2 separate regions of the Homo sapiens genome follow, and region 2 is linked to region 1. The links come from fine-mapping of genetic effects on gene expression. A gene starts in region 1. The other region holds a variant in brackets. All regions are shown on one strand. Distances are from middle to middle. Region 1 holds the start of KLHL12 (kelch like family member 12). Region 2 holds the start of CYB5R1 (cytochrome b5 reductase 1).

Region 1 (16,391 bases):
AGCTTGAGACCAGCCTGAGCAACATAGAGAGAACTCATCTCCACACAAAAAAATTTTGTTTTAATTAGCTGGGTGTGGTGGCATGCACCTGTGGTCCCAGCTACTCAGGAGGCTGAGGTGTGAGAATTGCTTGAGCCCAAGAATTCAAGGATACAGTGAGCTGTGATTGCACCACTGTGCTCTAATCTGGGTGACAGAGTGAGACTCTGTCTCAAAAACAAAACAAAAAACCTGGGAATTGTAAGGGAAAACAAACCACCTGTAATCCTGTGAAAATATCATACTTTAATATTTTGTGCATCAATTTAAATTTCATGTATCTTAATGAAATACTACCACTTAATGGCCAGATAGATAAAGAGTATCCATGTAGGCTATGTATAGTATCACTTTTTTATTATATTTCCTTATAGGTGTGTTACATACATGTATGTAAGAAAACACATAATTTCTCCTTCCTCCATTTTTTTTTTAAAACAGAAAAGGTGCAAATGCTCTCTTTTATAGAGCCAAATACTCATATCTGGAGAAGTTCCTTTATAGTGCTATTGACATCTGATCTCTTATTGCTCAATGAGACAAAAGCCATGGCCAGCAAACATGAACATCCATAGTTTGTCTCCAAAATGTTCATGATTAAGTTTACACTATTAATTTTCAACCTTTCCAGGGCTATTTTGACATAAACAATAGCAAGTTTTAATGTCTGTACCTTTCAACTGAAGCAGACAGGCTGCAGGAAGCAGTTCTTGTACATTCTCCACTGTCACATGTACTGTTTCTGTGTACACAAAGTCCAATAAAATTTCCATGGTAGAGGCAGTCAAACCTTGGATGTCAACATAAGGTTTCCCCTTCTCTGAGAGCTGAAAATTCAAAAGGTATAAAAGAATGATGGTTATAATTCCACAAGATAAAGGCAGAATCTCATATCTAAGAGCTTAGAGATGTTAATAATATTAATTGAACATTTATCTTTAAAAATTACAGGCCAGGCGTGGTGGCTCATGCCTGTAATCCCAGCACTTTGAGAGGCTAAGGCAGGCAAATCACCTGAGGTCAGGAATTCAAGACCAGCCTGGCCAACACAGTGAAACCCCGTCTCCACTAGAAATACAAAAATTAGTTGGGCATGGTGGCACATGCCTGTAGTCCCAGCTACTCAGGAGGCTGAGGCAGGAGAATTGCTTCAACCCAGGAGGCGAAGGTTGCAGAGAGCCAAGATTGTGCCACTCCACTCCAGCCTGGGCACCAGAGTGAGACTCCATTTCAAAAAAATAAAAAAGAAAGAAAATAAAAAAATAAAATTATGCTCTATTTTGTTGGATTTTTTTTTTTTTTTTTTTTTTTTTGAGACGGAATCTTGCACTGTTTCCCAGGCTGGAGTGCAGTGGTGCCATCTCGGCTCACTGCAAGCTCCACCTCCTGGGTTCATGCCATTCTCCTGGCTCAGCCTCCCGAGTAGTTTGGACTACAGGCGCCCGCCACCACGCCCGGCTAATTTTTTGTACTTTTAGTAGAGACGGGGTTTCACCGTGTTAGCCAGGATGGTCTCGATCTCCTCACCTCGTGATCCGCCTGCCTCAGCCTCCCAAAGTGCTGGGATTACAGGCGTGAGCCACCGCGCCCGGCCAATTTTGTTGGATTTTAATAAAGCAAATATGGCACATTATCTGTAGCTTTCCAAATGAAGTAGGTAGTTATCTATACGCCAGGAATAAGTAATAGGTAACACCTTCCTGGAATAGTAATTTTGCCAGTGAATAACTTTAAAAATCTATTTCATATTAAAATACAGATGTATTTACAGAATAGAATGCAAAAGTTCCATGAACATAACACTGGTCCGTGAACTTTTAAGATAAGACACAATATTTCAAAGAAATTTCATGTTCGTAGAGGAGCCTGTGGGTTATAACTCCAGTCTCTCCAGGACTACCTAGTTCCTATCATCTGTCCTTAGACTACTTTTTTTTCCCCTTTGTTGAGATAGGGTCTTGCTCTGTTCCCCAGGCTGGAGTGCAGTGGTGTGATCTCAGCTCACTGCAACCTCTGCCTCCCAGGTTCAAGTGTTTCTCGTGCCTCAGCCTCCCAAGTAGCTGGGATTACAGGAGTACACCACTACAACCAGCTAATTTTTTTTTTTTTTTTTGACACAGTCTTGCTCTGTTGCCCAGGCTGGAGTGCAGTGGCGTAATCTTGGCTCACTTCAAGCTCCACCTCCCAGGTTCAAGCGATTCTCCTGCCTCAGCCGCCTGAGTAGCTGGGACTACAGGCACATGCCACCATGCCTGGCTAATTTTTGTGTTTTTAGTAGAGATGGGGTTTCACCATGTTGGCCAGGCTGGTCTTGAACTCCTGACCTCAAGTGATCTGCCCACCTCAGCCTCTCAAAATGCTGGGATTACAGGCGTGAGCCACCATGCCCGGCCCTTAGACTGCATTTAGTAATGACGAAAAAGAACATGCAGGTCATCCTAAGGGACTTTCTTATGTAACATCATCTGAATACAAATAAATTATTTGTTACTTTTTCAAAATATTGGGTTAGACTAACTGAATTGTTAGCAGTATATTTAGTCTAAATTGTTAGTAGTATATCTTCTTGAAGCTATGAGTATTGATGAGGCCAGATAATCATAGAAAACTGTTTAGCTAAGAGAAGAAATCTTCAATTTTACAGGAAACTATCTGAAAATACCTTATGAAAATTTTACTAGATCTTAATCTTAGTTTAGAAATTCATTTTACTTAAAAAACTCTGGTGCATCTCCATTATTAACTAAATGGCTTTAACGTTTTTTATTTCTCCATCAGCCAGAGAATAACCAAAAAGCACTCTCTACCAAAGCCAAGAACAAAATCAATCCCTAACACTAAAAAAGTCACTAGCACATTATTTTGAAAAAACATATTAGGTTTTATTAACATTTAATACAGTACTAATATTCATAAACAATTACTATCCCAACACATTAAATGCATTTAATAATTATGGTACTGAAATATGTAAGTACATGTATTCCAGAAATTTCTCATTCAATAAACTACATTTCCATCAAATAGTTTAAATATGGAAACAATTTCACTATGTAAGAACTTAGAGCAATTATACATTTTACAGTTATATTTTGCTTTAGAATTTTTCAGCATGCTTCTCATTTACTACTATTTCATCTGATTCTCACAGCAACCTGGTAAGGTAGTTAGGTCTGATATTATTACTATCTAAGAGATAAAGGGGGGCCGGGCACATGGCTCAAGCCTGTAATCCCAGCACTTTGGGAGGCCGAGGTGGGTGGATCACAAGGTCAGGATATCGAGACCATCCTGGCTAACATGGTGAAACCCCGTCTCCACTAAAAATACAAAAAATTAGCCAGGCGTCAAGGAAAAAAAAAAAAAGAGAGAGCGATAAAGGGTCTAAAGATCAAAGAAGATCCAAGACTTTTTTTTTTTTTTGAGACAGAGTCTCGCTCTGTCACCCAGGCTGGAGTGCAGTGGCGTGATCTGGGCTCACTGCCAGCTCCGCCTCCCGGGTTCACGCCATTCTCCTGCCTCAGCCTCCCGAGTGGCTGGGACTACAGGCGCCCGCCACCACGCACGGCTAATTTTTTGTATTTTTAGTAGAGACGGGGTTTCACCGTGTTAGCCAGGATGGTCTTGATCTCCTGACCTCGTGATCCACCTGCTTCGGCCTCCCAAAGTGCTGGGATTACAGGCGTGAGCCACCACGCCCAGCTGAAGATCCAAGACTTAACCAGTCACTTAGCTAGTAAGAGACAGATATCATTCTTATTAAAGTATTTCAGGAAAAAAAAAAGAGAGAGAGAGAGAGACAAAACCCAGGTCCTCCTGCCTCAGTCTTTGTGATCTTTCAATCAGATGACATTTGAGGAGCATTTCATAGCTGAAGAGAACAAGGAAACCATCTAGTTCAACTACTTTATTTTACAGATCAACCCAGTGAAGTTAGATGGTTCCCAGGGTTTATACAGAATTGCTAAGAGAACTAAGCCTAGAATCCAGGTCTCTGGACTCTCTCCTTTGAACAATTACTCTCAAAAATAAAGACAAAACCATCTAGCATTTCCTTGCCTGATGTCAGTTTTTAAAGAAAGAAATCATCACTGATGAGAAAAAAAGAATTCATTTCCAAATAACAAAAGAGTAAAGACACTATTTTCAAGCTGACAAAAAACAGGATGCACAACATATAATTAGCAATCAGCCGTTCTAGTTCATTTCTTGCTCAGCAGCTGCTGGGTGACACTCTCTTTACCCAGTTAAATTCCAAATGCTTCTGATGATCTTGGGTATATCTCATGGAGAACAGTATAGGACAGGGATCTGCCTTGGTATATCACACAAGTTTATTTAAAAATTAGCCTGAATTAGTTGGAATGACCTGTCAGGTTCCTGTTTTCCCTACTAGCCATGTGACTGAGCATTGGCTCATAGTATTTTTAACTATACCAGTTTTAAAATTAGATTGTAGTATATAAAATTCATACTTCGGAGGCTAAGGCGGCACAAGAGTTACAAACTGTTTGGGCTTTAGAGTTGGAAAATATAAAATGAAATCCCACCTCTAGCACTTACAAGCCATGGGACTTTGGGCAAGTGATTTAATATCTGAAACCCTATTCCTTCATTTGTAAAATGAGATGGTAATACCTACCCCTAGGGTGAGTCAGATATGCACAACAATTACTAGCACAGTACCTGGCCCATAAAAGGTAGTTATTACCATCACAGAATACGCCTCTCCCATTCTGATTCAGCAGCAATATCTACACTAAGATGATAGAACTAACTAAAAAAAAAACAAAAAACAAACAAAAAACTTGTGCTTAAAAAGACTTTTAAAACAGTGTTTTCATAATGAAATATTTCAGGCATACATGTAAGTGTAAATTATATAATAAACAGTGATGCACCCACAACTGAGCTTTGAAAAAATAAATCAAGATAATTTATTTAAATCTGCTCTTAAAATGAGACTTGGGATCTTGAAAAACAAAGATTTGCAATGTTATTTTCTGTTCAGCTTTCTAAGAATATTCAACACAATATATTCAGCAGCCTTACTATACATTTCAAGTATTTTGTCAGGCAATTACTAAGTAGTGTTTCTTAATACTTTGTGAGCACTACCTGTATTCTCTCAAGCCAACCTTTTCCTAATTCCCTTTGTTAAGTGCTTATGAGTTAACATCCTTTCTCAGGTTATACACTCAACGCCTGTACAGCTATTCATTAAAAACTCTTCTTCCTTTCATTTGAAGTTATCCTAAAATTTACACTGATTTTCTTCACATATTGTTAGGAGGAGTGGGATGTGGTTTGAATCCTACTCCTCTCTCCTTCCTTCCTCCTTATCCCTCTGGTATTCACTTAAAAATTTTTAAACTTTAGAAGGAAAAAAGGCTGGATGCCGTGGCTCACACCTGTAATGCCAGGTGTGGCCACTCTGGGAGGCCAAGGCAGGAGGATTGCTTGAGCCCAGGAGTTCAAGACCAGCGTGGGCAACATAGTGAGACCCTGTCTCTACAAATAAATAAATAAAATTAAAAACAAAAAAAGGAGAAAAATTGGAAGACAAATTTAAGAAATAGTAAAATCCAATAGCTGACATGTGTGTTTTACTACATATTACACTATTCTAAGCACTTCCTATGTTATTTCATAAAATAATCTTCACAACAACCTTAATAACCATGTGTTACATATTACTATTATCCCTAACTTAAAGATGAGGAAACTAAGGCATAGTCATCTAAGTGGTAGATCTTATCCAGAATCTGCCAAAACATCACACTGTAAAAATTCAAAATTATATCAAACTTCCACTATTTTATTCAGTGAAATTAGACAACTAGAGTTCCACGGGTTTCATTTGTGTGGGGCTAATTTACCACTTACCTCACTAGTGAACATGGCACAGAAGTAATCACTACAGGCAGCCAGCACAATCCGATGGGCAGGGAAGTCTTTCTGCTCTACTCTCAATGTCACATCACAGAGGGTATTGCTCTTCCTGAGGGAGTTCATTGAATTGAGGATGGATTTAGCATGAGTATTTGTCATTATGTCTTTGGGGGCCATAATGCCTCCCATAAAGCAGTGCGGAGAAAGAACAAAATGGGTCCTTGGATTCTGCAACTACAAGAGGGAAAAAAAAACAATGAGCATATTCAAAGAACTAGGGCAACTGAACATATTTAATTAGCTTTACAAATTAAGAACCTAAGAGGCTTCCTCAGACCCAAACATACACAAGTTGAGGGCACTCCTATGCCTGGCATCACCACCAACCACTAGCCACTATCTAGTCCATGTAAAAGCTCTCTCTTCTTCCTCTGAATTCCTCTATCACGGAGTGTCCCTACCACTTGACATTTAATATGATCAATGCTGAAATGTAAGTAGAGATAAACAATATATGTCTTGTAAATCTTGACAAGGTTCTTGTCTCAAATGATAAACCGAAAATATAAAATTTCTTAAAGGTGTTATATTATTACTATTTAATGTCCTTAAGTAGATAAGTATTTAGAGCATACATAAAAAGAGGATCCTGCTTTATATGTATGCTTTCTATCCTAGAAGTTGCACAATAAATGTTTAGAATTTAATGTAAGAAAAAGTGTGTATTCAACTTCAACTTAGAGCAAGAAAGGCCACTCAGTAAAAATAAACTTTTTTCTAAAGAAGTATCCAAATGATATGTCTGATGACTTCCAAACATATCTGGATTTCTTCTTAAAATGAAACTTCAGGCCGGGCCCAACAGCTCACTCCTGTAATCCCAGCACTTTAGGAGGCTGAGGTGGGTGATCAGTTGAGGTCAGGAGTTTGAGAGCAGCCTGGCCAACATGGTGAAACCTAGTCTCTACTAAAAATACAAAAAATAGCCAGGCGTGGTGATGCGCGCCTATAATCCTAGCTACCAAGAAGGCTGAGGCCCGAGAATCACTTGAACCCAGGAGGTGGAGGTTGCAGTGAGCCGAGATCACACCACTGCACTCCAGCCTGGGCAACAGAGCGAGACTCTGTCTCAAAAAAAAAAAAAAAAAAAGAAACTTCAATTGAGGACCCATTACCTACACTGAATAATGGAAACCACGCAAGTTATCGATGGACTTACACTTGCTTAAGATATTGAAGCTCTTCAACAAGAGGGTATTCCTACTCTACATCTGTGAATGTCCATTACTGTTAAAGAATCGATATTGGAATCCAAAACTTTCTGAAATGATCCGGGGGGAAGGAAATCAAACTGTGGTCTCCAAAAGTCCACAAGTCACAATTAATCTTTCAACAGGAAAAATGAGATCCTAAATTCTCATCTACTTCTGTTTGTAGTTGGCATTTTACTCTATAAGCACTATAGATAATTCCTCCAACAACTCTGCAAGACCCATTTTACAGAAAAGCGGGTGATTCATCAAAGCATATGTTTTTCAAAAAGACTTAAGTCAACTTAGTTGCAACTCTAGGGGTGTAAAAAGGTCTAGAACAAATGTCCATTTACTATGAAGACAGCCCGGGGGGTCTTTTATCGTTTCCGTGTCAAAATGACAGTACCCCGGTGCAGAGTGGTCTTCCTTCTAGGGGATTCCTGCCTCAACACTCCAAGTCTCAGCATATCCTTCATCCTCACCCTTCTGAAGTGACCTATTTTCTAGAACTTTCGTTAACATCTGAATGGAGGGATTCCACTTCGGGAGATTCGGGGCAGGGAATGGGTAGTAAACTCGGGAAAGACTAAATTCTAGAGAAGGAAACGAAGTCCTTCCTCCTAATACCACCAGGCATATGGCCGCCACCGCCAGGTGGAGGTATCGGAGAGGGGCAGTTCAGGGGGAGAGTTGAGAGGGTGACCGAGGCCAGATGCCCCACCCCACTGCCAGCCTTCCTCCTCTGTTGGGCATGTCTCCCATTCCGCCTTGCAGGGAGACCAAGGATGGGGGGTAGGGCCATAACCCGGAGTTGACGGACAGGAAGGGAAGGGCTGACTGCCATCACTTCCGCGCAACTCACCTCCGCTCCCGAACCCACACAGCCGCACCGGGCCCGTCCCCAGCCTGTGGGGATGGAGTGCGGCGCGGGGCTAGCAGGCGGCTCGGGAGGAGCCGAAGCGCCGCCCAGACCCGGAGGCTCTGGAGGCTCTGGAGCCGTCCGGGTCTGGCCCCTGCGGCCGCGCGACGTGATGACGCAATGCAGCTGGAGCACCGCCCTCCCCCCGCTCCAGAGTCTGCGTCACGTGAGGAGGTGGTGTCACGTGACCTGTCTGTACCCTAGCGCGGGGCTTCTGTACGCTGCTAGGAAGCCGAATTACAAAAAGGTCGGGTGGGCAGGGAATGGTGGCTCACGCCTATAATCCCGGCACTTTGGCAGGCCGAGGCGAGCGAATTACCTGAGCTCCGGAGTTCCAGACCCGCCTGGGGATCACGGCAAAACCCCGTTTCTACAAAAAAAAAAAAAAAAAAAAAATTAGCCCGCACCGCGCCTGTAGTCCCAGCTACTCGAGAGGCTGACAGGAGGATCACTTGAGCCAGGCAGCAGAGGTTGCAGTGAGCCAGGATCGCCACTGCACTCCAGCCTGGGCCACAGAATGAGACCCTGTAAAAAAAAAAAAAAAAAAAAAATGTCCAGGCGTGGTGGCTCACGCCTGTAATCCCGGCACTTTGGGAGGCCGAGGCGGGTGTATTACTTGAGGTCAGGAGTTCGAGACCAGCCTGGCCAACATGGTGAAACCCTATCTCTACTGAAAATACAAAAAAATTAGCCGGGCGTTGTGGCACGCGCCTGTAATCCCAACTACTCAGGAGGCTAATGCAGGAGAATCGCTAGAACCTGGGAGGCGGAGGTTGCTGAGCCGAGATCGCGCCATTGCACTCCGGGCTGGGCGACCGACTGAGACTCTGTCTCTTAAAAAAAAAAAAAAAAGGCCAGGCGAGGTGGCTCACGCCTGTAATCCCAGCACTTTGGGAGGCCGAGACGGGTGGATCACGAGGTCAGGAGATCGATTCTGGCTAACACGGTGAAACCCCGTCTCCACTAAAAATACAAAAAAATTGGCTGGGCGTAGTGGCGGGCGCCAGTAGTCCCAGCTACTCGGGAAGCTGAGGCAGGAGAATGGCGTGAACCCGGGAGGCGGAGGTTGCAGTGAGCTGAGATCGCGCCACTGTACTCCAGCCTGGGCGACAGAGCAAGACTCCGTCTCAAAAAAAAAAAAAAGAAAAAAGAAAAAAAAGAAAAAACAAAAAAAAGGCTGGATGTTGTGGGGTCCGGCAGGGAGCCTGGGAATGTATCTACAGCTCGGCGATTGGCTGAGCCTGAGTTCCTCCCTACCGCTCACTAGGCAGGGCAGGCAGAGAGAATTCCAACGCTTAATATGCCAAGCATCTGATTGCAGCAAGTATGTTTTACCTTCCAGGTACTGAGGAACTTTTTGACATCGAGAAAACCCACAGAGGCCTCAAATTTATTCACGTCCATTGTCCACAATGGCCTTTTCGGGCCGAACAACGCTGCGGCGAGAATCCTCTGAGCCTTAGGATCCACAGACCTCAGTATATACTCTGCATCATAATGGGCCCTGTCATCACCACTGAATTGATTCTAAGGAAATTCTAATTGATTCAGGAAATTCTAATTTATTTTGGTGCACTTAGTGACTGAAAAGGCAAAAAGCTTAATTAGTTCAGCTTATCTGAATGTCTAGACAAATTGTGTTTGGTAATACTATTATGCTCTGTGAGCCCTTTGATTCTTTTTTTTTTTTTTTTTTTTTTTTGAGACGGACTCTTGCTCTGTCGCCGAGGCTCGAGTGCACTGGCGCGATCTCAGCTCACTGCAACCTCCGCCTCCCGGGTTCAAGCAATTCTCCTGCCTCAGCCTCTCCGAGTAGCTGGGAGTACAGGTGCACACCACCACGCCCGACTAATTTTTGTGTTTTTAATAGAGACGGTGTTTCGCCATCTTGGCCGGGCTGGTCTCGAATTCCTGACCTCGTGATCCGCCCGCCTTGGCCTCCTAAAGTGCTGGGATTACAGGCGTCAGCCACAGCGCCTAGCCCTTTGATTCTTAAGGGTACTAAAACCATAGCCAAGTGGGTAGCATTCTAAATTTACAACGTGTCCCCATCTTCCATGTCATACCTTCCTGATCTAAAACTGTCCCTGACTCACACATTGTAGAGAAGAATGCAAGATTGGTATATTATTGGGGGCATTTTGGAAATATTCGTCGATTTTAATAAAATTTTCCTTCACATATACTCGTGCACATGTAAAACGATGTATGTACAAGATTGTTAACTGCAGCATTGTTTGTAGATTAGATCAACAACAACATTAAATGTCCATTAATAGGGGACTGATTCAATAAGGTATAGTACATCCATAAAATCCAATACCATGAAGCTGTGAACAATTTATATACTCTATTATTGGTGTAAAAAGGTGGAAGATATATTCATATTTGCTTGTGTATGTGTAACATGTATTTGAAAAGACAAAGTGGTAACCTTGGTTTCTTTGGGGAAAGGAACTGTTTGGTTGTGAGACAGGGTGGGAAGGAGATTTTTGCTCTTTGTAATTTATTTTGCCTTTTGAATTTTGCTTCATATGAATTAAAAATAATGTTCAGAGCCTGGTGCGGTGGTGTACACCTACCTGTTGTCCTATCTGCTTTGGAGACTGAAGCAGGAAGATTGCTTGAGCCCCGAAGTTCGTGACCAGCCTGGGCAACGTAGCAAGAGCACGCCTCAAAATATATTTATATGTTCAATTTTTTAAAAAGTAAAAATAGGCTGGGCACAGTGGCTCACGCCTGTAATCCTAACACTTCGAGAGGCCGAGGCGGGCGGATCACCTGAGGTCAGGAGTTCCAGACTGGCCTGGCCAACGTGGCAAAACCCCGTCACTACTAAAAATAAAAAAATTAGCCAGTCATGGTGGCCTGCGCCTGAAATCCCAGCTACTCAGGAGGCTGAGGCCGGAGAATCGCTTGAACCCAGGGAGCAGAGGTTGCAGTGAGCTGAGATCACGCCACTGCACTCCAGCCTGGGCAACAGAGCAAGGCTCCATCTCAAATAAATAAATAAATTAATTAAATTAAATAAAAAGTAAAAATAATTCCTTGTTTTCAGGATGTAAAATAGTACTTTAATGATATTGCCTAATTCCTGACTGTTAAATTAAGGATTTTTCCAAATATGAGAAGGAACTTAATAATAAAAGAGGCTTTGTTTAGAGTATGCCTACTCCTTTTATTCACAAAATAAAAGATGGAGAAGTTGTTAGCAAGATTATCACACCAAAGGAACTAGTTCAGACTTCTGACTTTTTTCTTCTTTTATTTCCTCTTTTTTGTTAATATTTGTCGGTACATAGTAGGTGTATATATTTAGGGGGTACAGAGGGATTTTGATACAGGCATATAATGTGTACTAATCACATCACAGAAAGTTGGGTATCCATCCCCTCAAGCGTTTATCCTTTGTGTTAAAACAATCCAAGTATACTTTTAGTTATTTTAAAATGTACAATTCAATTATTATTGACTATACTTACCCTGTTCTATCAAATACTAGGTCTTATTCATTCTTTCTAGTTTTTCGGTACCCGTTACCCTCCCCACCTTCCCCCAACCCCCACTGTCCTTCCCAGCCTCTGGTAATCATCCTTCTACTCTCTATCTTTGTGAGTTCAATTGGTTGGTTTTTAGATCCCACAAATCAGTGAGAACATGCGATGCTTGTCTTTCTGTGCCTGGTTTATTTCACTTAACATAATGACCTTCAGTTTGATTCATGTTGCTGCAAATGACAGAATCTCATTATTTTTAATGACTGAATAGTACTCCATCATGAATAAGTACCACATTTTCTTTATCCATTCATCTGTTGATGGACACTTGGGTTGCTTCCAAATCTTAGCTATTGTGAACACTGCTGCAACAAACATGGGAGTGCAGATATCTCTATGATACACTGATTTACTTTCTTTTCTTTTTTTTGAGACAGAGTCTCACTCTGTTGCCCATGCTGGAGTGCAGTGGTGTGATCTCGGCTCACTGTAACCTCCGCCTCCCAGGTTCAAGCAATTTTTCTGCCTCAGCCTCCCAAGTAGCTGGGACTACAGGTGCAGGCCACCATGCCTGGCTAATTTTTGTATTTTTAGTAGAGACAAGGTTTCACATATTGGCCAGGCTGGTCTCAAACTCCTGACCTCATGATCTGCCCACCTCAGCCTCCCAAAGTGCTGGGATTACAGGCATGAGCCACCACACACAGTTGATTTACTTTCTTTTGGGTATATACACAGTAGTTGGATTGCTGGATTGTATGGTAGTTCTAGATTTAGTTTTCTGAGGCGCCTCCAAACTGTTCTCCATAGTGGTTGCACTAATTTACATTTCCACCAATAGTGTACAAGGGTTCCCTTTTCTCCACATTGTTGCCAGCATTTGTTATTGCCTGACTTCTGCATAAAAGCCATTTTAACTGGGATGAGATGATATCTCATGTAATTTTGATTTGCATTTCTCTGATTAATTATGTTGAGCACCTCTTCTTATGCCTGTTTACCATTTTTATGTCTTTTTTTGAGAAATGTCTAAATATTTTGCCCAACTTTTATTTTTTAAATATTTATTTATTTATTTTGAGACAGGGTGTTATTCTGTCACCCAGACTGGAGTGCAGTGGTACGATCTCGGCTCACTGCAACTGCTACTCCTCAATGCTGGGCTCTAGCGATCCTCCCACCTTAGTCTCCTGAGTAGCTAGTATTGCGGATGCATGCCACCATGCTCTGTTAATTAAAAAAAAAATTATTTTTTATGAGAAGAGGTCTCACTATATTGCCCAGACTGGTCTGGAACTCTGGACTAAGCAATCCACCTGCCTCAGCCTCCCAAAGTTGGGATTACAGGTGTGAGCCACTGCACCTGGCCTTAACCAGATATAATCAGATTATTAGATTTTTTTCTATAGAGTTGTTTGAGCCCCTTATATATTCTAGTTATTCATCCCTTATCAGATGGGTAATTTGAAAATATTTTCTCCCATTCTGTGGATTGTCTCTTCACTTTATTGATGGTTTCCTTTGCTGTGCAGAATCTTGTTAACTTGATGGGATCCCATTTGCCCATTTTTGCTTTGGTTTCTTGTATTCATGCAGTATTACTCAAGAAATTTTTTCCAACCCCACTGGAAACAAGAATCTTTAAAAAAAAAAATAAAGAAATTTTTGCCCAGACCAATGTCCTGGAGATTTTCCCCAAAGTTTTCTTATAGTGGTTTCATAGTTTGAGGTCTTAGATTTAAGTCTTTAATCCATGTTGATTTGATTTTTGCATATGGTGAGAGATAGGGGTCTAGTTTCATTCTTTTGCATGTGGATATCCAGTTCCCCCAATACCATTTATTGAAGAGACTCTTTTTCCCAGTGTATGTTCTTTGGCAGCTTTGTCGAAAATGAATTCATCATAGGTATGCGGATTTGTTTCTGGATTCTCTGTTGTGTTCCATTGTTCTCTCTGTGTGTTTTTATGACAGTACCATGCTGTTTTGGTTACTATAGCTCTGTAGTATAATTTGAAGTCAGGTAATGTGATTTGTCCCATTTTATTCTTTTTGCTCAGGATAGATTTGGCTACTCTAGGTCTTTTGTGCTTTCATATACATTTGAGGATTGTTTATGTTTCTGTGAAGAATGTTACTGGTATTTTAGAGATTGCATTGAATCTGTAGATTGCTTTGGGTAATATGGACATTTTAACAATATTGATTCTCCCAATCCATGAACATGGAATATCTTTTTATTTTTTGATGTTTTCTTCAATTTCTTTCATCAGTGTTTTATAGTTTTCATTGTAGAGATTTTTTATTTCTTTTTCTTTTTTTTTTTTTGAGATGGAGTCTTACTCTGTTGCCCAGGCTGGAGTGCAGTGGCATGATCTCGGACTACAAGCTCCGCCTCCCGGGTTCACACCATTCTCCTGCTTCAGCCTCCCAAGTAGCTGGGACTACAGGTGCCCACCACCGTGTTAGCCAGGGTGGTCTCGATCTCCTGACCTTGTGATCCACCCGCCTCGGCCTCCCAAAGTTCTGGGATTACAGGCATGAGCCACCGTGCCCGGCCAAGATTTTTTATTTCTTTGGTTAATTCCTTGGTATTTAATTTGTGGTTATTGCAAATAGGATTACTTTTTTTTATTTATTTTTCAGATTGCTTGCTGTTGGCATATAGAAATGCTACTGATTTTTGTATGTTGATTTTGTATCTTGAGACTTTACTGAATTTATCAGTTCTAATAGTTTTTTGGTGGAGTCTTTAGGTTTTTCCAAATGTAAGATCATGTCATCTGCACGCAAAGATAATTTGACTTTTTCCTTTCCAATTTGGATGGCTTTATTTCTTTTTCTTGTCTGATTGCTCTAACTAGGACTTCCAGTACTATATTGAATAACAGTGGTGAAAGTGGGCATCTTTTCAGGTTCCAGATCTAAGAGGAAAGGCTCTCAGTTCGATACAAGCTGTAGGTCTGTCATATACAGCTTTTATTATATTGAGGTATGTTCCTTCTATCCTTAGTCTTTTGACAGTTTTTATCATGAAGGGATGTTAAACTTTATCAAATGCTTTTTCAGCATTAATTGGAAGGATCATATGATTTCATTCTGTTGACATGATATATCACATTGACTGATTTGCATATGTTGAATCATCCTTGCATCCCTTGGAAAATCCCACTTGGTCATGATGAATGATCTTTTTAATGTATTGTTGAATTAGGTTTGAAAGTATTTTGTTAAGAATGTTTGCATCAATATTCATCAGATATGTTGGCCTGTAGTTTTCTTTCTTTCTTTCTTTCTTTCTTTCTTTCTTTCTTTCTTTCTTTCTTTCTTTTTTTTTTTTGATGTGTCTTTGTCTGGTTTTGGTATCAGGGTAATACTGGCCTTGTACAATGAGTTTGGAAGTATTCCCTTCTCCTCTATTTTTTGGAACAGTTTGAGTAGGCTTGGTATTACTCTCATTATAAATGTTTGGTAGAATTCAGCAGTGAAGCCGTCAGGTCCCAGGCTTTTCTTTACTGAGAGATTTTCTATTACAGATTTGATCTTGTTACTTCTTACTGGTCTGTCCAGGTTTTGGATTTCTTCATGGTTCAATCTTGGTAAGTTTTATGTGTCTAGGAATTTATCCATTTCTTCTAGGTTTTCCAATTTATTGGCATATAGTTGCTCATAGTAGCCATTTTTTTTTGTTTTGTTGATCTTTTGTATTGTTTCCTTCATTTCAAATTCATTTATTTCTGCTCTGATCTTTATTATTTCGTTTCTTCTACTAATTTTGGGCTCTGTTTGCTCTTGCTTTTCTAATTCTTTAAGATGCATCATTAGGTTTTTTATTTGAAGTTTTTCTTCTTTTTTGATGTAGACACTTTTAGCTATAAATTTCCTTCTTAGTACTGCTTTCACCATATCCTATAGGTTTTGGCATGTTGTCCTTCCATTATCATTTGTTTTAAGAAATTTTTCAATTTCCTTCTTGATTTCTTCATTGACCCACTGGTCATTCAGGAGCATGTTGTTTGATTTCCATGTGTTTATATAGTTTCCAAAACTCCTCTTGTTATTGATTTCTAGTTTTATTCCATTGCGGTCCGAGAAGATGCTTCATATTATTTCAATTTTTTTGAATCTTTTAAGACTTGTTTTGTGACCTAACATATAGTCTGTCCTTGAAAATGGTCCATATGCTGAGGATAAGAATGTGTATTCTGCAGCCACTGGATGAAATGTTCTGTAAATATCTATTAGGTTAATTTATTCTATAGTGCAGATTAAGTGCAATGTTTCTTTGTTGATAGTTGATATTCTGTCTGGGAGATCTGTCCAGTGCTGAAAGCGGAGTGTTGAAGTCTTCAGGTATTATTGTGTTGGGGCCTATCTCTGTCTGTAGCTCTAATAATATTTGCTTTATATACCTGGGTGCTTCAGTGTTAGATGCATATATGTTTACAAGCGTTATATCCTCTTGCTGAATTGTCCCGTTTATCACTATATAATGATCTTCTTTGTCTCTTCTTGTTTTTGTCTTAAAATCTATTTTCCTTTACATATAAGCATTTCCCCTAATAAAATCTTTGCACATATAATTTCATCTTAGCAAGTGCTTTCCTGAGAACTAGACTAACACACAGGACATCTGAGAATTTCTTTGGGTCCTATTCATTTGCAATAATCCAAGTTTACTAAAGTTCCCAAAGTTGCATTTTTTAAAAATTGAAAATGGGTGTTGTATTAGTCTGTTCTCTCACTGCTAACAAAGATATATCCCAGACTGGATAATTTATAAAGGAAAAAG
Region 2 (16,391 bases), 41 kb after region 1:
ATCATAAGATCATAGCTCACTGCAGCCTCGAACTCCTGGGCTTCACGGGATCCTCTCAACTCAGCCTCCCAAGTAGCTGGGCTACAGATTCGTGCCACCATGCCCAGTTAATTTTTTATTTTTGTAGAGATAGGGTCTCACTATGTTGCCCAGGCTGTCAAAAATGTTACCTCTCTTTCCCCCCTTCCTCCCTTTCTGAATCTTTCTCAACCTCTTCCCAGCTGCACTTTGTATGTACCTCTGCTATGGTATTAGTCACACTGTTATAATTATTTGTCACTTGTTGGCCGGGCGCAGTGGCTCACGCCTGTAATCCCAGCACTTTGGGAGGCTGAGGCGGGCGGATCACGAGGTCAGGAGATCGAGACCATCCTGGCTAACACGGTGAAACCCCATCTCTACTAAAAATACAAAAAGTTAGCCGGGCGTGGTGGCGGGCGCCTGTAGTCCCAGCTACTCGGGAGGCTGAGGCAGGAGAATGGTGTGAACCCAGGAGGCGGAGCTTGCAGTGAGCCGAGATTGCGCCACTGTACTCCAGCCTGGGTGACGGAGCGAGCCTCCGTCTCAAAAAAAAAAAAAAAAATGTCATTTGTCTGTCTTAGACTGTGAGTTCTTTGGGGGTCTAAGACCAGTGTTGGTCACACTTTTATCCTCAGGGCCTCGCATAGTGCTTGGCACATGCCAGATCCTTAATAAACATTTGTATGTTGAGTGGATGAGACAAAAACCCATGCAAGACAAGGAATGGTGATCTTCCACGCAGGAAATTCTCTTTACAAGCCTGCTTCACTATCTGAGCCCAACGTTCCTAAGCAAGATTTTCCTTCCTGGAGGTGAGGTGGCTGAGACTGTGTTACAGAGCCCAGTGCCATACACATATTAGCTGATCAAGAAATGTTGGATGGAACACCACCAACAGAATTTACTGAAGGTTCTGCCCTGGGGAGGAGTGAATTCTGAGGGTCCCACAAATCTTTCTCTCAGAAGCCCCAGAAACAGCAATAGACAGTTGCTGAAAAGCAGAAAAGCAATGTCGACCTTCATTCTGAGCCCACCACATTGTTTTGTTGCAATGGGAGTAACAAAGAAGAATCTGGAGAGGCTGCCCTAGTCCTACCCTGGGAAAGGGAGTAGATTGGGTCATGCTACATAGCAGAGGAGAAGGGTACTCAGGACAGATGAGCCTGGGGGAGGCCAACTCTATCTGGGCATCAACAATTCCGGCCAGGGCTGGTGATGTCAGGTTACTTTTTAAAGAAGAAGGCTTCCCTTCCAAACAGAAAGACAACACTTTGATTTGTGTGCCAGGTTCCCTGAAGGATAAATATGGTGAAGGATAGGCCAAGAGAAGGAAGAAGGGGAAGAGTGGCCTATCAAGGGAACACTGTGAGGGGCAGCTGGGCTCAAAAATGTCCCCTCTAATGTGTGTTCTCCTTCCCCCACCTCGAGAGCCTCCAGGGAGAAGCGGAGCTCTGGCTCTGCTGAGACAGCTGCTGAGATGATCACTGAGTCTGCTGGCAGCTCACATTTCAGCACATGGTACAACTTCTCAAAGGTTCTTTGGAACACCTGGGAGAGTTGCATGGTGGCAAACCCTTCCTCCCTAGGTCCTCGGGGATTTGGAAACAAGGACCCCAGACACAACAACCCTTTCAATATCACACAGGGGCCTCAGCCCCATTTATTTGCACAGCCAGGGGTTCCTGCCACAAACAGCAGTTTTCGATTATCAGTAGCTGTTTCCCTCTAGCCTGGGCAGGGGCTGAGAGAGACACACACAGAAATATGATATTTCAGACTCCTTTGAGATCTGAAGAAATCATTTCCTCCTTTCTTGCCATCTCCATAAGACCACCTCTGGAAGTATGCTATGCTCAACTTATACTCACACATACAGATTTGCTCATAGGTTGAACAGTGAAGTTTAAGTAAAACCCATTGCACAGACTGTTCCTTTCATCACAGACACAAAGAAGGTGAGAGTAAGATGCTATCAAGGAACTAGCCAATCTTGGACCAAGCGTACATGCTCCCTTCCTTCTTACTCCATGGAAGAGACTGCTCCATGGGCCTCTCCTGGACCTGTTGCCACGGGGAGATTTAGGAGGCCATCCAAGGAGTGACTGAGCCTTGGCCCTCTTCCATGGCTACAGGAATATTGTTCCTGCAGGTACTATCCAGATTTCAGCTCTAGATGTAACTGAAAAAACCTGAAACTCTGAGGAAAGGAATCTAAGGCTTATAGTGCTTGAGTACTGATGGGGAACAACTGCAGCGAACAGCACCAGGGAAGCTGGAGGATGCTCAGTAGGTGAATCGCATCTTTTGTGAGTAGCCCAGTTTGTCCAAGTTGGGATGGCAGGCCAGCTGCACCATTGGGGGTGGCCCACAAAGCAGTACCAGCACATCATCCCCTGGAGCGGGCAGGTGTTCCCGGATCATGTCGGCAGTCACAAAGCCCTTGCTGTAGGCCCAATCTGAAGTATGGGGAGAAGAAAGTACTTAATACTCCAGATACATGCTGGCAAGGGGGTGTGGTGCCATGAGACTGGGGAGGGCCCTGAAAGGCTCTGGAGAAAGTGTCAAGTGGTAGCAGCAGCTGGGAATGGGTATACTCAGCCTGCCTCAAGCTGAGCCTTAGCAGCACCGCCATCCCTGTCACCCACCTGGTAAACAGGAACCCAAAGGAAAGGGACCAGGAGATCACTGTGTCTGTGCACTCAGACTTCCGAGTTGGCAGTGTGAGGCAAGGTTGATTTCAATGAAGCCAGAATTCACAAAGGGGCAAGGCTTTGATTTTGACGATGAGGGGATAGTGGGATGTCCAGAAATGGGAAGGATACCTTTTGGGGGATGATCCAGAGTGAACCAGAGCTTAAAGCGATTGGGATAGCGGGCCTGCAGTTCCTCTAAGTCCTCCCGCAAGATGATATCCTTTTCTGTCTGAAATGCAAAGGGGAAGGAAAGTCTTTAGGAGTCTTCTCAGGCCCACATAAAAAGTTTTCTGCTATACAACTTTCCAACTAAGAAAAAGAATGTTAAGGGAAAGCAAAAGTTCTAGGAAATAAGCAAGACTTGCAGTGCTTTTAGGGAGTTAGGATGAGGAGAAGAGGGGAACAGCCTTTATCTACACATTATGAAGGAACAAAGATGAATATTTAACCAAGAAGATCTAAGTTTCTGTGCTCCAGACTAGATACCTTAAAAGTTTTCTTCTTTCCTTGGGGACCAGGGAAGGAATTTGATTCAGTGCTCTGTCCTTTTCCTCCTTATTGAAAGAGGACCCTGTGCCTTACAGAGGGGACCTTGGGCAGAGGCTAAAACAGGGCACTGGGCCAGTTCTGCCCATCCATACCACGTCTCTCAGCCCTACCCACACAGCAACTTTGAAGTCTTAGGGTGGAGGAAAACAAACCAACCTGGTTGGCAAAAAGCAGAAAGCACTGGGTTGGATCTTCAGGGACTTTCAGGATGGCCCGGATCAGCTGTAGCATTGGGGTGATTCCTGCATGAAGATACCCCACAGTGAAATGTAGTGGCCACACTCTCTGCCCTGTCCTGGCTCCTTAGCTGACCAGCCCTTTCATCTTCATTCTGCTCATTCACCACTCCACTCCATTTTCCTTTAGCATTCTCATCCTCTAAACTCTTCCTGCATATTCTCCAACATCTGTATTTCCGGGCACCCTTCAAATTCATCTAAGTTCATATTGTAGAAATCTTTCTTAGGAACTAATCTAAGACTCTTCTGAAAGTCCTTTGGAGGCTAGGACTCCAGTGTCACAAATGACTACAAGTACCTCCGGATTCAATGATGAGGGTTCTAGAACACTGTATTTGCAGAGGTTAAGTGCATGTACTTAGGCACTAGGCAGAGCCAAATACTAATTTTGCTCCAGGCCATTACCAGTGAAATAACCCTGTGGAAATCATTTAGCCTCTCTGGAACCCCATTGTCTCTCTGTAAAAGGAAAAGGCTAGTACCTACTTCATAGATACCTATATATGTGTCTAATTTTTGTGTCTAATATATAGTAGTGTATTAGACTACACAGTGTCTAATGCACAGTAGTGTCCAATGCTAATTTTCTTTCTTCCTAGCTAGTCATTCCTAGCTGCTTCTCTCTTCTCTCACCTAAAACTATTAGATCCATTCAAAATGAGGAAAGCTCATTTAATTTGTTTCTCTAATTCCATCAGTTAAAATTTTTTTTGGTTTCTACCTGCTTATGATTTTGTTTTTCAGATACTAGGGAGTTCTAAGCATTGCTGGAAATCCCCTGATGAACAACAGCTTGGCTATGGTTACCAGTCTTCAGAGGGTCACCTAGGAATTTGCATGGCAACAGTCAACAATGGTGGGAGAGAAAGGCCCTCAGTGTAATGCACCTGTCCCGCCGGCAATCATTCCCAGTTTCTTCGCCACTCGGGGTTCTGGTGGAGATTTCTTGTTGGGCTGAATGTTAAAATGCCCTGAGAGGTCAGGTGAAGAGAGCAGTGGAAGAATAAAGTCAATACAGCGAACTTAGAAAACAAATGCAGAGTTGAAAATATGCCTGAGGCCAGTTGAGCAGCTGCTATGACATCTGATCCTGGAGCTTGGGTGGAAGCTTGAGTTGAGCCAGCCCTGACAATAATATAGTTGAGGGACAATGGGGCCAGGGCTATCTGTGAGTCAGTTCAGCGCCACACAATGTATCAGCTGCTTCTGGCAAAGTGTCACTCCCTGGTGAAGGAGACAGGCACAGAGCCAGGTGTGAATCTATTTTCCCAAGTGGCACACAGCAGCTCCAGGGACTTGCTAATGCACCCAGCTGTTCCCATGGGAAGGGCTGAAAGCTATCTCTGGCTCACTCCACAGCTCACCCAGGGGGGCAAATTTTTGAAGGTGGGGAAGAGGGGCACATGTTTGCTTTAGTAATCTCCACAGCTGCCATGGCTAGGGAATTCAAGTGGAGGAGGAACTGCTTCCTGTGGCAAATGGGGCTGAGAAACATGCCTTTCTATTGTATCAGCGCTATGTTTAGAAGGAAGGGCGGCCCTGGCCCTTACGTGCATACACATGTGTACACACAGCCATACTGTGCCAAGAGGACTATGGGAACTGATAAAGTGGGAGACAGGCTCAAGGAGAAGACAGGTCATTACCTTTTCCAGTGTAAGTGAGCAACCCGCTTGGCCCCCGAAACTCCACCACATCCCCAACCTTCAGGCTATCCAGGTACTGAGACATCTTCCCTCCCTCAGGAAATTTGGGGTGCACACCCTTCAGGTAGACCTTACAAGACAGAGAGAAAAATACCTTATTTGGAATGTCACTGGTTTCTGAGCCCCATGTTGACTAAACCTCCCTGAGGCTGGGGCAGGGATCAGATATGTGCTATCTTTTCCCCGTCTACATACTTTCTTTCTTTCTTTTTTTTTTTTGAGTCAGAGTTTTGCTCTTGCTGCCCAGGCTTGAGTGCAGTGGCGCAATCTTGGCTCACTGCAACCTCCGCCTCCTGGGTTCAAGTGAGTCTCCTGCCTCAGTCTCCTGAGTAGCTCATACTTTCTTCACATCCACAGAGTACATACCATTTCCTGCTGTCAGGCAAATCTTAGAAATTTCTACAAATCCCAGAAAGAATGGGTAAGCAGCCCCTGGGTCCCTTCCTAGCCCCTTACCTTGATGACAAGATCCACATAGCCTTGATCCTCATCACTGGTGACAGGAGTGTATGGCCTGATGACCAGGCTGCCATCAATTCGGGTGGAGAGGTAGATATGTTTGCCTGGGGACCGTGCAGAGAGCTACATAAGGGTTGTCTGTGATGTGCTGCATCCCTCAAAATACTCAAAGAGATTTGAGAGAACAAGATGTCTTGCTTCCTGCTGTGGTCCCAAGGAGCTACAAGGCAGGGAAGATTTGCCCCATTGAGCCCTCAGTTGGATCTCTTATAAGCGCCCAGTTGAGGAAACACTTATTTCCAGCGTTTCCTGCCAGTTACTGCCAGGACCTTGACAGATGAGCCAAAAGGGTCTGGGCAATGGGAAAAAGTTAGTAGTGCTTGCTCAGAGGGAGTAATTAGCAAATCCTGCAGGGAAGAGGCAAGACTGTTGAGTGTTAAAGCTGGATGGGGGTCATGGAAGCCACACTCTAGAGGGGCCCAGTGGCACCTCACAGCTTGGAGGATGCAGAGCCAAGTGGGGGAAGGGGAATGGTGTGTGGAGCAAACCGGTTGAAGCAGCGTGTTTCATGAGATCCCAGGAGGGGAGTCACCTTCTGAGGATACCAGGGAAAGGAGCCCATTCCACACTTTCCTTACCCACAGGCAGCCCCAGAGTGTGGTGGGCGGTGGGCAGGGCAAAGCGGAACCTCTTGGTGTTGTGGCTCACAGTCTGGAGGGTGGAGGACACAAGTGTTTCACCAAGCGCGCCTGGCGCTGCCACGTCCCTTGGACATCCCAACCACCGTGGGTGCTGTACCCTCCATGCCAGGAGCACTCTGGTCCCCTCCTTCACCCTGGCCCTTTCTTCCCCAACTTACCGTCTTGTCTAGCAGTCGTAGCAGGTACTTTTCATTGGGGTCCAGGAGAGTGACCTGAGGCCGGCGGGACCTCCGAACCAAGTAGGAGCCCACAGCCAGGCCGAGCAGAGTGACCAGCCCCACCCCCAGGGAGGCCAGCAGGACGGGGCTCTGTGGGTAGAGGAGGCAGCGTGACCGCCAGGCTGGGTAAGAGCCCGGGGCTTGGGTGGTGACCGTCCCAGGGGTGGCGATCCCGAGCTCCAGCGCGGAGGCATGCCAAGGGCAGAGGGGTAACCTGGCGGAGTCCCGAGCCCGGATGTGCGGGATCGGGACCCCAGCATCCACGGTGGGCCCAGAGCCCTGCGGGGCGGGGTCGGCAGCGACAGCCCCTGGTCCGGAGCTGAGTGGCCAGAACCAGATGGGGAGGGGTCCCCCAGTGGAGGATACTGAATGAGGGTCTTACCGTCTGGATCCCCATGACGGAGCGCCTTTTCCTCCACCACCTGACAAGCCGACAGATCCCACAATGCGCCGCGGGGCGGGTCGGAGGGCGGGGCAGGCCGGGGGCGGGGCCGGGCAGGAGGCAGGACCTCGCGGCTGGGGGGGCAGGAGGCGGGGCCTGGCGGGGGGGGGGGGGGGTGTCTGTCGGGGGCGGGGCCTAGCAGGAGGTGGCGGCGGCGGGGCCTTTTGGGGGCGGGGTCCGGCAGAGGCGGGGCTGGGCCCCTCTGCGCGCCACCCTTTCCCTCCGCTACTCGGTGGCTCAGGGTCTCCGGTGCTTATTCAATACTTTTTTTTTTTTTTTTGAGTCGGAGCCTCGCTCTGTCGCCCAGGCTGGAGTGCAGTGGCGCGATCTCGGTTACTGCAACCTCCGCCTCCCAGTTTCAAGTGGTTCTCCTGGCTCCGCCTCCCGAGTATCTGGGACTACTGGCGTGCGCCACCACGCCCGGCTAATTTTTTTTTTGTATTTTTAGTACAGACTGGGTTTCACCGTGTTGGTCAGGGTGGTCTCGAGCTCCAGGGCTCAAATAATCTACCCGCTTCGGCCTCCCAACGTGTTGGGATTACAGGCGTGAGCCATCGCGCCCGGCCCCAAGATCTTTTAAGACCGCAGCTCCAGCCTCTCCTCCCAGCGAGGTGGTCCCTGCCACTTCGACCCGCTTATATCCGAACTGGATGGGAGTTCTGCCTAAGGTAGAACCACGCTAAATTGGGGGATTGGAAATCTCTTGAGTCTGCGGGTGCTGAGCGGAGAGTGTAACGATGAACCAGAGACAGGCTCAAAGTAGAGCAGAAGGGCCTGAAGTTAATCATTGTGCAGTCACCTTAGTTTTTCAACCGGCTGAATTGCAGCAAGAGAATGGAACAGCCCAGAGGAGTCTCTTACAGGAGTGAACAGTGGCATGGCAACTTCATTTCCTTTTGACAAAAGACTGATTTTGTTTACAGCGCCAAGCCGTCAGCCTATCAGGATGATTCAGGAGCTTCCTTTGGTTTCAAAGACCAAGCTTCACATCCTGATTTGGGTTCTTGTGCCCTTAGGGTCAAAGAAGTGGGCTTTGGAGGCAGAGTGTACAGAATAAGAATCTTGCCTCTAGCACTTATTGGCTCTGTGACCTTAGATAGCTTACTCAACCTGAGTTTCTTCATCTACAGATGGATATAAGATGGATATCTACAGATGGATATATATTATTATCTACAGATAGATTGTATCTAGTTCATAGCTTTGGTGTGAGGCTTCAGTGAGATATGTTAACGTGCTTAGTGTAGTGCCTGTCATAAAGCAAAATATTCAACAGTTGGCAGCTACTATTATAACTTAAAAGACAGCACAGAGGGTCAGCTATGGTTTTAGGAATGAGCTCTGCCTGGGGCACAAGCATGGGACAGGAGGAGGCAGGAAAAAACATCAGGAGCCGCTGGAGCTACAGATTTCCCAAGATGACCATTCTTTCTCATACATGAGTTTCTCAACTAGAATGACATTTGCTCTTTGATATACCGTGATGGATGAGATCTCTGCAGATGTCAGTGTCAACATCTTAAACTAATACCATCAGGGCAGCAGGGACATTAGAGCCCCCAGTTTTCAGTTGTATTTGGTGAACTCTGTGAATGATCCAAGAGATACTTAGTTTTCCTTTTCCTCTCCACTGGCTGAAAATGTTCCTAAGACCCCAGTACATGTTCCTCTGAATTTTTTAAGCAGCCTGCACACTGACTTGAGGGAA[G/A]TGAGTGCACCAGATCATGGTGACATGCCAATCCATGCAGAGAGGGTTGAAAAGGGGAAGGAAGGGACCCTTCCTCTTTTCTGTTCCGAGAGAATGAGGCGATTATGTTCCGGTGCTTCTGACATCCCCACTGCTGGCTTGGTTAAGAAGCCACACTACTGATCCTTGCCACTGCTCCACTCTGGCTAAAGAGGTTCTAGGCCTTCCTCCCTCTAGTGGATAGATGTGGCAAGAGAGGGGGAAGTATGGAACGAAAGGAGAGCATAACTACAACTCGGGCTTCTCTCAGTGATTGCATTTTCTGAACCCCAAAGTGGCACATTCTAACAAGTGTGAGTGTATCACTGGGAACCACAGGACAGAATGGTTGGGTGTGGGCTTATCCTGGAAACTAAGTGTTGGACTCAGTAATTGTGGGAAGGCTCTTTTGCTCCTGAAAATGAATGCTGCAGGAGTGGTGGGAAGGGGCTGATGGCCTGGCAGGTCTTCCTGTCTCAGATTCTGTGGTGAATTGAACTCCACTCCACCACGACTCATGGTAATCTTACATTACTCCTAGTTTGGAGGAAAAGATAGGCATTTCTGAATTTTTATTTAACCCAATCTTTTAAGTTTAGGATTTCCTCCTGGGTATACAATAAAGAATAGAACAGGCTGGGTTCACGCCTGTAATCCCATCACTTTGGGAGGCTGGATGGATCACTTGAGCCCAGGAGTTTGAGACCAGCCTGGGCAACATGGCAAAATCCTGTCTTTACAAAAATACAAAAATTAGCCAAGTGCGATGGCGCTGGCCTGTAGTCCTAGATACTAAGGAGGCTGAGGTGGGGGTATTGCTTGAGCCTGGGAGATCAACGCTGCAGTGAGCCATGATTGCGCCACTGCACTCCAGCCTGGGCAATAGAGCAAGACCCTGTTTAAAAAAATATATATATATAATGTAGTGTGAGGGGGAAGTAGAATTTCAAACCTGTGTTTTATAATTCTGAATTAGGATGTAAAACTCAGTGGCCCTTTTTAGATAAGATATCCAGAAAGAAGCTTGGAGGAAGACTTGCTCATACTGAGGAGATGGCATGGAGGAATCAGACCAGGAGATGTAATAATGACAAAAAAATTAACATTTATTGAGCATGTGCAATATAGCAAGAACTAGGTAAATTGCTTTTCACGTATTCTGACAACATCCATTTAATCCTGACAACAACTGTGAGATAGATATTATCATTAGTAGTCTCATTTTATGGAGTGGGGGGAAACTGAAGTTTAGGACAAGTAAGTCACTTGCCCAAGATCACCTACTAAATGGCAAACTCAGACTGCATACCAGGCAGCTTGATGTTGAAAACTAACAACCTCACACCCTTTTTGAACTTTTCTTTTTTTTTTGAGACGGAGTCTTGCTCTGTCACCCAGGCTGGAGTGCAGTGGCGCAATCTCGACTCACTGCAACCTCTGCCTCCCAGGTTCAAGTGATTCTTCTGCCTCAGCCTCCTGAGTAGCTGGGATTACAGGCATGCGCCACCATCCCCGGCTAATTTTTGTACTTTTAGTAGAGACGAGGTTTCACCATGTTGGCCAGGCTGGTCTCAAACTCCTAACTTCGTGATCCGCCTGCCTCAGCCTCCCAAAGTGCTGGGATTACAGGCGTAAGCCACCGTGCCTGGCTGAACTTTTTAGTATGGAAACTATCAAACATATACAAAAGTAGACAGAACAGTATAATAAAGCCCGACGTACCCATCACCCTCTTCAACAATTATTAAATCATGGTCACCTTTCTTTCATTTCTTCCCCAGTCCGTTCCTTCCTCCAGTATTATTTTTAAGCAAATCCCATATTTTTTATAACTTTGTCCTTAAATATTTTAGTGTGTATCTTTAAAAGCTAAGGACTTAAAAATAACCATAATACCATTATCACATGTAAAAATAATTAACAACAATTACTTAGTTTCATCAGATAGCTAGTCAGTGTTCAAAGTTCCACCTGTCTCTTTTTTTTTTTTTTTTTTTTGAGATGGAGTCTCACTCTGTCGCCTAGGCTGGAGTGCAGTGGCATGATCTTGGCTCACTACCAGCTCCACCTCCCAGGTTCACGCCATTCTCCTGCCTCAGCCTCCCGAGTAGCTGGGACTACAGGCGCCCGCCACCACGCCTGGCTAATTTTTTGTATTTTTAGTAGAGACGGGGTTTCACTGTGTTAGCCAGGATAGTCTCAATCTCCTGACCTTGTGATCCATCCTCCTCGGCCTCCCAAAGTGCTGGGATTACAGGGATGAGCCGCCGTGCCCGGCCTTTTTTTTTTTTTTTTTTTTTTGAGATGGAGTCTCACTCTGTCACCCAGGCTGGAGTGCAGTGGCACGATCTCGGCTCACTGCAACCTCTGCCTCCCGGGTTCAAGAGATTCTCCTGCCTCAGCCTCCTGAGTAGCTGGGATTATAGGCGACTTCCACAGCGCCCGCCATGGCGCCTGGCTAATTTTTGTATTTTTAGTAGAGAAGGGGTTTCACCATCTTGGCCAGACTGTTCTTGAACTCCTGACATTGTGATCCACCCGGCTCGGCCTCCCAAAGTGCTGGAATTACAGGCATGAGCCACTGCGCCTGGCCCCAGCTGTCTCATTTTAAATTTGTAATTGTCATACATTAAAATAGACTCTTGGGCATACAGTTCTGTGAATTCTAGAATATGTATAGATTTGTGGCACCACTATAATCAGGAAATAGACCAGTTTGATCACCCTGCAAATCTCCCATATGCTATCCCTTTATGGCCACATCCTCCCCTTACCTTTAACTCCTGGTTATCACTGATGTGTTCCCTGTCAATACACTTTTGCCTCTTTATGAATGTCACATAAATAAAGTCTATACAATATGTAAGCTTTTGAGTGGATTTCTTTCACTCAGCATAGTTTGAGATTCATCCAAGTTATCATGTGTATTTACAGTCCATTCTTTTCATTGCTAGTAGTATTCTGTTGTATGGCTGTATCATAATTTGTTTATCCATTCATCAGCTGAAGGACATTTGAGTTATTTCCAATTTTTGGTGATGATTGAAATTGCTTTAAACATTCATGTGCAGATTTCCATGTGAACCTAGTTTTTATTTCTCTGAAATATCCACAAGTGTGATTTCCGGATCACATGGAAGGTGTATATTTAACTTTATATAAAAAGCTGCCAAACTGTTTTTCAAGGTGATTATACCATTTTGCCTTCCCACTAGCAATGGATGAGAATTCCAATTGCTGCGGCATTTTCATTAGCAATTGGTATTGTCAGCACTTTTGATTTTGGCCATTCTAATAGGCATGAAGAGGTATCTCATTGTGATTTTACTTTTTTTTTTTTGTTTTTTTGAGATAGAGTCTCCTCTGTCACCAAGCTGGAGTGCAGTGGTATGATCACGGCTCACTGCAGCCTCAACCTCCCAGGCTCCAGCGATTCTTCTACCTGAACCTCCCTGAGTAGCTGAGACCACAAGCAAGTGCCACCACTCCTGGCTAATTTTTTTAAAAGTTTTGTAAATACGAGCTTTCACTTTATTGCCCAGGCTGATCTTGAACTCCTGGGCTCAAGTGATCCTCCCGCCTTGGCCTCCTAGAGTGTTGGGATTACAGACATGAGCCACCATGCTATCCTCATTATGATTTTAATTTGCATTTATGTAATGGTTGATGATAATAAACATGTTCTTATTTGCCATCTATATATCATCTTTGGTGAAGTGTCTGTTCAAGTATTTTGCCCAGTTTTAATTGGATTGTTTTCTTCCACTTGAGTTGTGAGGGCTCTTTTTTTTTTTTTCTCTTGAGATGGAGTTTCGCTCTTGTCGCCCAGGCTGGAGTGCAATGGCACAGTCTCAGCTTGCTGCAACCTCTGCCTCCAGGGTTCAAGCGATTCTCCGGCCTCAGCCTCCCAAGTTAGCTGGAATTACAGGTGCCCGCCACCATGCCCAGCTAATTTTTGTATTTTTAGTAGAGATGGGGTTTCACCATGCTGGCCAGGCCAGTCTCAAACTCCTGACCTGAAGTGATCCGCCCGCTTCGGCCTCCCAAAGTGCCAGGATTATAGACATGAGCCACCACGCCCGGCTGAGAGTTCTTTATATATTCTGAATACAAAACTCCTTGTTGGATATTGCAAATATTTTATTTCAGCCTGTAGCTTGTCTTTCCATTGTCTTAAAGTGTCTTTTGCACTGAGAAGGTTTTCAGTTTTGTTGAAGTCCAATTTATCAAATTTTTTTTTTTAGATGAAGTCTCTCTCTGTTGTCCAAGCTGGAGTGCAGTGGCACGATCTTGGCTCACTGCAACCTCCGCCTCCCGGGTTCAAGTGATTCTCCTTCCTCAGCCTCCCGAGTAGCTGGGACTACAGGCATGCGCCACTATACCCAGCTAATTTTTGTATTTTTAGTAGAGACAGGGTTTCACTATGTTGACTAGGCTGGTCCAATCTATCAATTCTTTAAATGCAGCATGCTGCACATTTAAAGTGTCACATCGGAGAACACTTTGCCTAACCCCAAGTTATAAAGATTTTATCCTATATTTTCTTCTAAAAGTTGTATAGCTTTGTGGTTTACATTTCTATCCATGATCTATTTTAAATTTTATTTTGCATGAAGTATAAGGTTTAGGTTATGGTTTGTTTATTTTTGTATACAGATGTTCTTTTGTTCCAGCTTCTTTTGTAGAAAAGACTATCCTTTCTCCACTGAGCTGCTTTTGCACTCTCCTCAAAAATCAGTTGGTATATTTTTGTGGGTCTATTTATGATTTCTGTGTTCTGTTATATTGAACTATGTGTCTGTCCCTTCATGAATACCATACTGTCTTGATTCCTGTAGCTTTATAGTAGGTCTTGAAATTAGATAGTGTGATTACTCCAACTTTATTCTTCTTTTCCAACATTGTTTTAACTATTCTGGTTCTTTGCCTTTCTATATAGATTGAGATTAGCTTGTCTAATCTCAATTCCAAAAGAATTCTGCTGGGATTTCAATTGGAACTGTGTTAAATCTATACATCAGTATAGAAGAGAATGAGATCTTTATTATGTTAAGTTTTCAGATCCATGAATGTAATGTTTCCATTTCTTTAGGTCTTTTAAAATTTCTTTCATTAGTATCTAATAATTTTCAACATACACATTCTGTAGATGTTTTGTTAGACTTATACTTAAGTTTTGGCACAACATTTAGTTATAAACAATAAGAAACTTGAAGAAAATTGCTAGATATAAGATGAAGCTAAAATAGAATGAAGTCCATTTCACCATAATTATTAAATATACATTGATAGTTTAATATCAACAGAAAATACAAAGTACCCAGGAAATAAAAATAACAAAGGAGGTACAGAACTCTTATGAGAAAATTATCAAATTTCCTTAAATGACATGCAAAGAAGCCTTCCCATTTCAGTGGATGGCAACTCCATCCTTCCAGTAGTTTGGACAAAAACTTTGCAGTTATCCTTACTCCTCTTCTCAATGCTTACAACCAATTTTCGGAAAATTCTTTTGGTTTCGTCTTCAAAATATATTCAACATTTGGCTGTTTTCACCACTTCCATTGCCACCACTCTGGTCTAAACCATCATCTTTTCTTGCCTGGATTCCTGCAGAAGCATCCTCATTGGCCCTGTTTCCATCCTTGTTCCTCTGTAATCTAGTCTCTACATAGTAGGCAGAGTATTACTTTTATAACTTCAGCCAGATCATGCCAAACCCTTCACTCGAAACCCTGCAATTCTTCTGCTTCACACTTGTTTATCTTCATTGTCTGTCTCCCGCTTTAGTATGTAAGCTCCATGAGGGTTACAAACTTGGTCTGTTTACCGATGAACCTCAAGTGGCTAGGATAATGCAAATAATAAAAGAGGCAATTATTTGCTCTAGGAAAAATATTACACATAAAATATAATCACAGATCACTACTGCTTAATCAAGAGGTCAAACAATTCCCAAACACAGTGAAGCTTCTAGACTGACTTGCCACATCTCCATAAATCCAGTCGGTAAGGAAACAGTGGGTCCTTTAGCACCCATGGCACAGCAGGCAGCATGGGCTTAACAGTTCCCCTTTCCCTGAAAGTTCCAAGAGGGAACTTGGTGAGCGGTAGCAATGTTGAGTGGGCCTGGGTGGATGCTGAGCGCACAGTGCATCTGTCTCATAGCTGAGAAATGCTATGCTTAGGAAACCCCCAGTCTTATAAGGGGACCACTAGCAAGCCTACCCAATCTTTGCCCCACAGGGAGACATTATCTTTATTTTTCTGGTTAGCAAAGAAATCTCTGGGGAGGGAGAAGTGGGGAGATCTTAGTATTCCTTAATATGGCTGGAGGACCATGCCTCTAAATTTCTCCCAGAGGGAGTCACTGTCTTAATAAACAAATCTGCCCTCTGCAAAAGGAAGACACTACCTTTAGCTTCTAAGGCTGTTTGCTGCCCAAACATCCTGGAAAAGATAGTCTGAGATGTACAAATTCTTTGGAGAATTGTCCCACAACTACTTGTTCAGCAGTGAATATTTTACAAAAGCATCATAATGTAATCATTGATTTAACTATATTGAAAGAATGGGGCTGGGTGAGGTGGCTTACACCTGTAATCCCAACACGTTGGGAGGCCAAGGCAGGTGGATCACTTGAGGCCAGGAGTTTGAGACCAGCCTGGCCAACATGGTAAAACCTCGTCTCTACTAAAAGTACAAAAATTAGCCAGGCATAGTGGTGGGTGCCTGTAATCCCAGCTACTCGGGAGGCTGAGGCACAAGAATCGCTTGAACCCAGGAGGTGGAGGTTGCAGTAAGCTGAGATTGTGCCACTGCCCTCCAGCCTGGGTGACAGAGTAAAACTCTGTCTTAAAAAAAAAAAAAAAAAAAAAGAAAGAAAAGAAAAGAAAAGAAAGAATAGGAGAAAGATAAATGGATATTTGTTGACTTGGATAAAAGGACATGTCCTAACATGACAAGGAATTGTCTATAAAACAAACATTTTAAAATGGCAGTTTAAGTATGTTATTTAGAAAGATGGATGCAACACTAGAAGAAATAGTAGAAAGCCTTATAGTTATGTTTAGGGAACAGAACTAGGGCCAAGGGAGGTGGGGCTGTTTTTCTCTTTCTCTCCCCTTCCTCCCTTCCTTCCCTCCTTCCCTCCTTCCCTCTTTTCCTCTTTCCTTCCTTCCTTCCTTCCCTCCCCCCCTCCTTCCTTCCTTCCTTCCTCCCTTCCTTTCTCTCTTTCTCTCTTCCTTTCTCCCTTCCTTCCTTCCTTTTTTCTTTCTTTCTTTCTTTCTTTTCTGTCTTTCTACAGAGTTTCGCTCTTGTCGCCCAGGCTGGAGTGCAGTGGCGTGATGTCGGCTCACTGCAACCTCCGCCTCCCAGGTTCAAGCGATTCTCCTGCCTCAGCCTCCTGAGTAGCTGGGATTACAGGCATGTGCCACCTGGCTAATTTTGTATTTTTAGTAGAGATAGGGTTTCTCCATGCTGGTCAGGCTGGTCTCTAACCCCCAACCTCAGGTGATCCGCCTGCCTCGGCCTCCCAAAGTGCTGGGATTACAGGCATGAGCCACCGTGCCCAGCTGGGGCAGTTTTTCATTATAATCCTTTTGTTGCTATTTTTTTTTTTTAATCTCCAGTGATCT

What was found.
Region 2: its variant is fine-mapped to the expression of KLHL12 in whole blood (TOPMed, PIP above 0.99).

What each region holds. Positions count from the first base shown.
Region 1 is chr1:202,919,043-202,935,433 of GRCh38, forward strand. KLHL12 (kelch like family member 12) reads right to left here and starts at 8,192. Exons shown (of 12, transcript NM_021633.4): 1 at 8,047-8,192; 2 at 5,926-6,165; 3 at 713-866. The coding sequence starts at 6,120. RefSeq lists enhancers at 8,335-8,384, 9,461-9,962, 9,963-10,462.
Region 2 is chr1:202,960,223-202,976,613 of GRCh38, forward strand. It overlaps CYB5R1 (cytochrome b5 reductase 1), which reads right to left and starts at 7,035. Exons shown (of 9, transcript NM_016243.3): 1 at 6,969-7,035; 2 at 6,527-6,676; 3 at 6,306-6,378; 4 at 5,665-5,771; 5 at 5,149-5,278; 6 at 4,390-4,473; 7 at 3,420-3,505; 8 at 2,844-2,943; 9 at 1,651-2,477. The coding sequence starts at 6,983. The coding sequence ends at 2,305. RefSeq lists silencers at 6,943-6,992, 7,063-7,222, 7,839-8,133. The variant G/A (reference allele first, on the strand shown) is at 8,737.